Linked DNA regions of Homo sapiens. The protein of the gene in region 2 interacts with the protein of the main gene of each other region in a pairwise test. Each region holds a gene or a part of one and is shown on either strand. Other genes may lie near its edges.

Region 1 (3,917 bases), on a different chromosome or scaffold from region 2:
AGGCTGAGGCGGGCGGATCACAAGGTCAGGAGTTTGAGACCAGCCTGGCCAAGGTGGTGAAACCCGTCTCTAGTAAAAATACAAAAATTAGCTGGGCATGGTGGCGTGCACCTGTAGTCCCAGCTACTCAGGAGGCTGAGGCAGAAGAATCGCTTGAACCCAGGAGAGATCACACCACTGCACTCCAGCCCAGGCGACAGAGCGAGACTCCGTCTCAAAAAAAGAGAGAAAGTCTTTAAGCGTTCTTACTAGGAAAGTAAAATAATAGTATAGCTGTAGCTGCTGATTGGTTTTGAAACTTTCTAGGCAAAATCTAGAGGCAGGGCGCGGTGGCTTACACCTGTAATCCCAGAACTTTGGAAGGCCGAGGTGGGCGGATCATGAGGTCAGGAGTTCGAGACCAGCTTGGCCAACATGGTGAAACCCTGTCTCTACTAAGAATACAAAAATTAGCTGGGCGTGGTGGCGCATGCCACTCGGGAGCCTGAGGCAAGAGAATCGTTGGAACCCGGGAGGCAGAAGCTGCAGTAGGCAGAAGCTGCAGTGAGCCGAGATTGCACCACTGCATTCTAACCTGGGCGGCAAAGCAAGACTCTATCTCAAAAAAAAAAAAAAAAAAAAAAATATATATATATATATATATATATATATATAGAGAGAGAGAGAGAGAGAGAGAGAGAGAGAGAGAGAGAGAGAACAATGTTAATGTTAACTTGACATTTCTTGGTATCGGAGCCTTAAGTTTTTGTTATTGCTTTTTTTTGTTTTAAGAGACAGAGCCTCCCTCTGTCCCCCAGGCTGAAGTGCAGTGGTATAACCTTGGTTTACTGCACCCTCAACTTCCTAGGCTCAAATGATTCCCCTACCTCATCCGCCCCAGGGGCTACGTGGAACCACAGGCATGCATCACTAAGCCTAGCTGATGGTTTTTTTGTTTGTTTGTTTTGTTTTTTTTAATTTTATTTTTTTTGAGACAGAGTTTCGCTCTTGTTGCCCAGGCTGGAGTGCAATGGCGCAATCTCGGCTCACCGCAACCTCCGCCTCCCAGGTTCAAGCAATTCTTCTGCCTCAGCCTCCCCCGTAGCTGGGATTATGGTCATGTACCACCACGCCCGGCTAATTTTGTATTTTTAGTAGAGACAGGGTTTCTCCATGTTGAGGCTGGTCTCGAACTCCTGACCTCAGGTGATCCGTCCACCTCAGTCTCCCAAAGTGCTGGGATTACAGGCGTGAGCCACTGCGCCAGGCCTTTTTTATTTTTATTTTTTAACGTTTTGTAGAGATGGGATCTCACTATGTTGCCCAAGCTGGTCTCTAACTCTTGGTCTCAAGAGATCCACCAGCCTTGGCCTCCCAAAGTGCTGGGATTATAAGCATGAGCTACTGTGCCCGGCCTCCCTTAAGTTCTTAAGAGCTCACTGTCATGCTGTCTTGTTCTCTCTTCATGAGATTCTCCCCCCACACTTCAGTGTTTCCTTCCCAGCCCTTTTACCCCCAAGACTGTTTGCCTGCCTTATGTAGCTCACAAGAGCCCTGACAGAACATCTCTCATTCATTCCCCGCAAAACTGTTTCCAGCCTCCTTGCTCTGACTTTGCAGCACTCGCCAGCCTGGCCCTGCCTTCCATTTGACTTCCAGTGTCCGTATCAATTCCCATCAGCAGAAACAAAGGAGCTGCCGCACTCAACCTTGTTTATCCAATTTTATTCTGTGTGGTGAAGACGTGGCTGCCTCCTAAAGGCGAGCCCACAGAGGCAAGGCTGCCTTCTCCATTCTGCTCTCCAACGTGAGATTCGTGCCTACCTCAGATTACAGTCATTACAGCTCATTGAATCACGCCAGGCTATATTTGTGGCATTGCCGTCTCTGTGTGTCGTATGTGTCTTTTTTACTTGCTGGGCACATGCTAAGTTATGCAGTGGTCTATTGTGGCTGCTCACTGAAGGACCCTGTCACATTCTAGAGCAGGGTTTGTTGGTGTAGCCCGAGTTACGGACAGAAACCACAGAGACTTAATCTGTTTGCTGTCTCATCCCCAGGCTGTTTCTTGTAAAATCCTGATATGTCAAAGCTCATTTGGTCCAACCTCCTCAATCTATAGAAGAGTAACCAAGGTCCACCTGGGCTGACTAAGTGTCCATGTTCGTGTGACTTGCAGGCAAGCCAGGTCTTTTTACTCTCAAGTCAAGTCTGACTGTATCTCAGACATCGTCATGAGTATTAGGGATACTATGAGAAATAAATCAATTCTGCCCTTGGTTTAAGATTGATTGACGCCAGGTACTGTGACACATGCCTCTATTCCCAGATACTTGGGAGGCTAAGGCAGGAGGATCACTTGAGCCAGGAGTTTGTGTCCAGCTTGGGCAACATAGTGAGACCTTGTCTCTTAAAAAAAAAAAAAAACAAGATTGATTGAATATAAGATCGAGTTTGTTAACCTCCATTACCAAAGTCCTTGTTAAACCCTGCAAGATGAGAACAAGATAGGTTCTATATACACGCTTCTTAGAACCAGATAACTCCTGGCACTGTGCAGTTTTCCAGTTTTCCACTTAAAGATTTACCCTTGATTCAGATTTCAAATTGAGTCTTTTGAGACCAAGAAGATTTTTTCCTATATAATTTTATTTTGTGAGAATGGAGAAGAACCCTAAGATGGGCCTTAGAGCAAACAAGTTTCTTATGAGTGATGGTGCTCAATAAAAGCTTCAAGGAACTTCAGGTACTTGTAGACATCTTCCATAAATGTAAAATTAATTAGTTGATTAAAAACCTAGTTCAAAATTCAAAAGATATAAAAAGGCATATGGAAGGAAGTGGCCTAGTCACCCACTTTTTCTCCCCGCTGACCTGCAGTTTCTTTTCCATTTTGTTACATAAATGATAGTTTTATTTGACGCTTCTCAGCAGTGTACCTTGCTTTGCTTTTTGTCCCTAGTTAACTTGAAATTGTTTAATATCAGTATGTGAAGAGCTTCCTTCTTATGGCTAAGTAGAATTTCATTGTATGGATTTACCATAGTTTGCTAAATACATTTTAATAAGTCCCCTAGACTTTGAACTCTTTCCCTCTGGAGCAGACCTTGGGGCAAGGATGTGGGAGCATGTAGTTTATTTGGGAGGTGATTCTAGGAAAGAGGGAATAAGGAGGAACTTAGGAGGGACTATCATCTGCTTCTTAGCCTCATAAGGGTTAAGAGAAATAGCATCTTAACTAGCACAGGGGTGGGCTTGTGAGACACGTGGAGTGAACATTCTTTCACCTCTTTGGGGGTTAAACTTAAGTCTGATTAGACATATGATGAAATCATGTGTTCCTGATGGTAATTTATTTGTAAAGTAATTCCTCATGATGGCCTAGAAAAGGGGCTTCGTGTCCCATGAGGCAGAAGTGGAGGCAAATAGAACGGAAGAGACAGCCACCCAGTCCCTTGAGCCTTCTAGAGAAGCAGATGGCAGGGGAGAGGAATAGCTCAGCACCCTATGCCCCCCGCTCCAACATACACGCCTGATTTCTATCTTCCCTGCAGCCTTGGGGAGCAGTACTACAAAGATGCCATGGAGCAGTGCCACAATTACAATGCTCGCCTCTGTGCTGAGCGCAGCGTGCGCCTGCCTTTCTTGGACTCACAGACCGGAGTAGCCCAGAGCAATTGTTACATCTGGATGGAAAAGCGACACCGGGGTCCAGGTGAGGGTCCAGACTTGGGAGAAGGGGACTCAGGAGCATAAGGAGGAAGAAGCCTCCTCATCTTAGGTGATGAGACAGTTGATAGGGTTTTCCCTACTGCCTTCCACCTATGGATGAATATGGTCTTCCTGTGATTAGAAACCCAGGGAGGATGAAGCAGATGTTTGATACCAGCATCTTTGTTTTCTGCCCTGCTGAGGCCATTGTGTGTCTGGAGAACTAT
Region 2 (5,311 bases):
TGGGATTACAGGCATGAGCCACTGGGCCCAGCCGCAAATAGACTTTTTAATTTGCCTTTGGTGCTGAACTCATGGGGCTCTGGGTGGCCAGAGTATTGTCCAACATCAAAAGAACTTTAAAAGGTAGTCTCTTACTGGCAAGGTACTTCCTGACTTCAGGGACAAAGCATTGATGGAACCAATCCAGAAAAAGGGTTCTTGTTGTCTAAGCCTTCTTATTGCACAACCTAAACACTGGCAGCTGGTGTTTATCTTTGCTCTTCGAGGCTGGAGGTTAACAGCTTTATAGACAAGGGCAGTTCTGATGACAAACTTGACTCAAACTCCTGGGCTCTGGTAATCGTCCCACCTCTGCCTCCCAAAGTGCTGGGTTTTTTTGCACAAAAGAGTAGAGTTAGCCTGTCTCTTCTTGCCTTCAATGTTGGTACTTGCTTCTCTTCCTATTTTTTTTTTTCCTTTTTAAAAACTGAAATAGGGTCTTATTCTGTTGCCCAGGCTACAGTTCAGTGGTGCACTCATGGCTAACTGCAGCCTCAATCTTCCAGGCTCAAGCAATCCTCCCACCTCAGACTCCTGAGTAGCAGGAACAACAGGTGTGTGCCACCACACCCAGCTAATTTTTGTACTTTTTGTAGAGACAGAGTTTCCCATGTTGCCCAGGTTGGTCTTCCTTACTATTAATGTCCTTTGTGGCTTTTTTTTTCCAGAGTAGGGTACCTTAATCTGCATTAAACACCTGTTCAGGCAGATATCCTTTCTCTTCAATGATTTTCTTAACGGTGTCTGAGAATTCATCTGCTGCCTCTTGGTCAGCATAAGCTGCTTCTCCTGTATCTTGTTTTTTTTTTTTTTGAGACAGGGTCTCACTCTGTCACCCAGGCTGGAGTGCAGTGGGGGGATCTCGGCTCATGCAACCTCCGCCTCCCAGGCTCAAGCGATTCTCCTGCCTCAGCCTCCCAAGTAGCTGGGATTATAGGCATGGACCACTACCACCTAGCTAGTTTTTGTATTTTTTGTAGAGACGGGGTTTCACCATGTTGGCCAGGCTGGTCATAAACTCTTGACCTCAAATGATCCACCCGCCTTGGACTGCCAAAGTGCTGGGATTACGGGCAACACTGCGCCCAGCCTGTCTTGACATTTTTTAAGCCAAACCTCTTTCTAAAATCAGCAAACCATCATTTGTTGTCATTAAATACTCCAGCTTTAGATCCTTCACCTTCTTTTTGCTTTAAGTTGCCATATAATGACTTTGCTTTTTCTCAAATCATATTAGAGTCAATAGGTATGCCTTTTTATAGTACCCATGTAAAAGCTACATATTATGCACATAAAAAGGCATTTGGCAAAAAGTGCAAGGTTTTTGCACCTGTTGGCATAGCTACAGTGACAACTTCATGAATTTTCTTTTTTTTTTCTTTTTCTGTTTTTTTTTTTTTTTTACGCAATTGGTCCTTACGCTGGATTTATCTTTAAAAAAATTTTTTTTTGTAGAGACAGGGTCTTACTTTGTTGCCCAGGCTGGTCTCAATCTACTGGGCTCAATCAGTCCTCCTGCCTCAGACTCTCAAAATGGATTCATCTGGCCAGGCCAGAGCAAGACACCGTCTCAAAAAAAAAAAAAAAAAAAAGGGTTCATTTATCTTGAAACGACAAGCAACTACCTGTGTAGACCTCAGTCTACAGTACATATCAAGCAATTCAATTTTTTCTTGTAATGTCATGAGCATTCTCTGCTTCTTGGGAACACTTCCAGCATCACCAATGGCACCTTGTATGGGTTTCATGGTGTTATTCTAGGTTTATGATATTGTACTAAATACCAGGAAAAATATGCAAGAGTTGTAAGAGATTAATTTTTTTTTTTTTGAGACCAAGTCTCGCTCTGTCTCCCAGGCTGGAGTGCAATGGCGTGATCTTGGCTTACTGCAACTCCGTCTCCCAGGTTCAAGCGATTCTCCTGCCTCAGCCTCCCAAGTAGCTGGGATTACAGGCATGCGCCCACCATGCCCAGCTAAGTTTTTTGTATTTTTAGTAGAGACAGGGTTTCACCATGTTGGCTAGGCTGGTCTCGAACTCCTGACCTCAAGTGATCCACCCACCTCGGCCTCCTAAAGTGCTGGGATTACAGGTGTGAGCCACCGCGCCCAGCTGAGAAACTACGTTATACTGCGATACGCAATACACTGGAGAGACGTACTGCTCACTGAAGATGATTAATGTTGCACGGCATTTTAAGTGGATACTCACAATACTTGAGTTCACCTCCATAGCAACAGGAGGTGGCCACAAAATTATTAGTAATGTTATATACTACAGTTAATTTTTATGCAGTTATGATTTAATATGGCATCTTTACATTTGTTTACATTTCTCCCTTCTGCAAATGGCAGCATGTGTGGTCTATAGGTGTTTGTGTGCAGAAGTTTTTTATTTTTTTATTTTTATTTTTATTTTTTATTTTTGTTTTTTAAGACAGAGTCTCGCTTTGTCTCCCAGGCTGGAGTACAGTGGTGCAATCTCAGCGCACTGCAACCTCCACCTCCCGGGTTCAAGTGATTCTCTTGCTTCAGCCTCCCCTAGTAGCTGAGACTACAGGTGCACACCACCATGCCCAGGTAATTTTTGTATTTTTAGTAGAGACGGGGTTTTACCATGTTGGCCAGGGTGGTCTTGAACTCCCGACCTCAGGTAATCTGCCCGCCTCAGCCTCCCAAAGTGCTGAGATTACAAGCGTGAGCCACCATGCCTGGCCAGAAGCTTTTTAGACAGGGTCTCACTCTGTTTCCAGGCTGCAGTACAGTGGCATGGTCTTAGCTCACTGCAGCCTCAAACTCCCAGGCTCAATTGATCCTCCCACCTCAGCCCCCTCAAGTAACTGGTATTTTTTGTAGAGAAGGGGTTTCACCATGTTGCCCAGATTGGTCTCAACCTCCTGGGCTCAAGTGATCTGCCCGCCTCAACCTACCAAAGTGCTGGGATTACAGGCATGAGCCACCGCACCCAGCCAGTGTGCAGAAGTTTTGATAAATTTTAACTTGTAGATTTCTGTATGTTTTATGGTAGTAAATGATAATATAGACTAATACCTACATATATTTTTACACTTGTAACATACCAATTTTTTAAGTTTTTTGATATTTCTAGGCTATGCTGTTCATCTGCAAGTTTTTTGAAACTGCTTGAAATCTCCAAAACAGTTTCCAATGCATTTATTACTGAAAAAAATCCACATATAAGTGGACCTGTGCAGTTCAAACCCATGTTGTTTGGCCGGGCGTGGTGGCTCACATCTGTAATCCCAGCACTTTGGGAGGCCGAGGCAGGTGGATCGCCTGAGGTTGGGAGCTCAAGACCAGCCTGGCCAACATGGTGAAACCCCGTCTCTACTAAAAACTACAAAAATTAGCCGGCAATGGTGGCACATGCCTGTAATCTCAGCTACGTGGGAGGCTGAGGCTTGACAAGAATTGCTTGAACCTGGGAGGTGGAGGTTGCAATGAATGAAGATCGCACCACTGCACTCCCGCCTGGGTGACAAAGCAAGACTCTGTCTCAAAAAAGAAAAAAAAAGGCCGGGCGCGGTGGCTCACGCCTGTAATCCCAGCACTTTGGGAGGCCGAGGCGGGTGGATCATGAGATCAGGAGATTGAGACCATCCTGGCTAACACGGTGAAACCCCGTCTCTACTAAAAATACAAAAAAATTAGCCAGGCGTGGTGGCGGGTGCCTGTAGTCCCAGCTACTCGGGAGGCTGAGGCAGGAGAATGGCGTGAGCCCAGGAGGTGGAGCTTGCAGTGAGCCGAGATCGTGCCACTGCACTCCAGCCTGGGCGAGAGAGTGAGACTCCATCTCAAAAAGAAAAAAAAAAAAAGAAAAAAAACCCATGTTGTTCAAGGCTCAACTATAAATGTTAGCCATTATTATTGCTGTTGTTGTAATTAGGCAACTATTCAGTTCTTGCTCTGCCTTGGTATAGCCCTTCACCTGAAATTAACGTTAAGTTGATAGCTGAAAAGTGTTTTACCACCATAAATGACCTAAAACCATGTCTTGTACCTGGCAGCTGCTTCTTTCTTCCCATCTTCCAGTGTCCTCCAATGAATATGATCTCCAAAACCTGGAAGGAAAGAACTTTATAAGCATTCACATAATGAACAAAGGGCACAGTCCCAAGAAGGAAGTGTGCATGTTCACAAGATACCCACTAAGAAGGTTTTCTTCTGTCAAGAGCTTGGTGTTCAAGTCCCAGCTCCACCACCTTCTAGGTGTATGGGACCATACCTCAAGCCTCAGTTTTCATACCTGCAAAATGGAGACACCACCACCTAATTCACAGTTTCAAAGGAGGCTAAATTTAAAAATGACGTTAAATGCTTTGTAAACTATCACGGAATATGCTAATAATACTGTAAGAATGAACGAGAATTTCCCACAGAGTAAACATAAAGCAGGTCATAACAAATCATAACCAATTGAAGGTGATTCAGCAATACAGCTTTAGATTCAGAAAGACCTAGGTCCATGACTCCACTTCCTATTACGTGTGTGAATTCTTGTGAGTGAAGTAAGCTCTCCAAGTCCCAATTTCTTTCTTATTTTCCTCCTTCATCTGTAAAAGCAAGACAATAAGACCTACCTCCAAGTGTTAGTATAAGGATTAAATGAAGTAAGTATTTAAAGCTATTGTTATTATTATTCCCACAATTCACCCAGAGTAATCTTCCTATTTTATTTTTTGAAACTCTTGAACATGTTTTGTAGAATAGCACAGAATGGTCTTTCTAAATCATGTTACTCCAGGAAAAAAACAAAAAACAAAAACAAAAAAACTTTCAAAGGCTTTCCAATGCCCTAAAGATAAAGGTCCAACTCTTGCAGTAGGGTTTACAAAGCCTTTCAGAATATGGCACCTGCCCACCTCTCCAGCCTCACTTTCCACATTTTTCCTAAAATCTTATATATACACCCTATACTATACTTTCACTTTTTTTTTTTTTTTTGAGATAGAGTCTCTCTGTCACCCAGGCTAGAATAAAGTGGTATGATCTTGGCTCACTGCAACCTCCACCTCCCAGGTTCAAGCGATTCTTTTGCCTCAGCCTCCTGAGTAGCTGGAATTACAAGCGCCTGCCACCACGACTGGCTAATTTTTTTTTTTGGAGATGGAGTTTTGCTCTTGTTGCCCAGGCTGGAGTGCAATGGCATGATCTCGGCTCACCGCAACCTCCACCTCCTGGGTTCAAGCGATTCTCCTGCCTCAGTCTCCCAAGTAGCTGGGATTACAGGCATGTGCCACCAAGCCTGGCTA

What was found. The genes of interacting proteins can lie anywhere in the genome.
Region 1: the proteins of TXNDC12 (region 2) and DPF2 interact in binary tests that used the Homo sapiens proteins (3 or more experiments, as listed by UniProt).

The regions. Positions count from the first base shown.
Region 1 is NC_000011.10:65,336,852-65,340,768, forward strand, and holds part of DPF2 (zinc finger protein ubi-d4), read left to right. Parts: intron 1-3,533; coding exon 3,534-3,694; intron 3,695-3,917. UniProt on the Homo sapiens protein: Plays an active role in transcriptional regulation by binding modified histones H3 and H4. Is a negative regulator of myeloid differentiation of hematopoietic progenitor cells. Might also have a role in the development and maturation of lymphoid cells.
Region 2 is NC_000001.11:52,037,478-52,042,788, forward strand, and holds part of TXNDC12 (thioredoxin domain-containing protein 12 precursor), read right to left. Parts: intron 4,121-5,311; coding exon 4,060-4,120; intron 1-4,059. UniProt on the Homo sapiens protein: Protein-disulfide reductase of the endoplasmic reticulum that promotes disulfide bond formation in client proteins through its thiol-disulfide oxidase activity.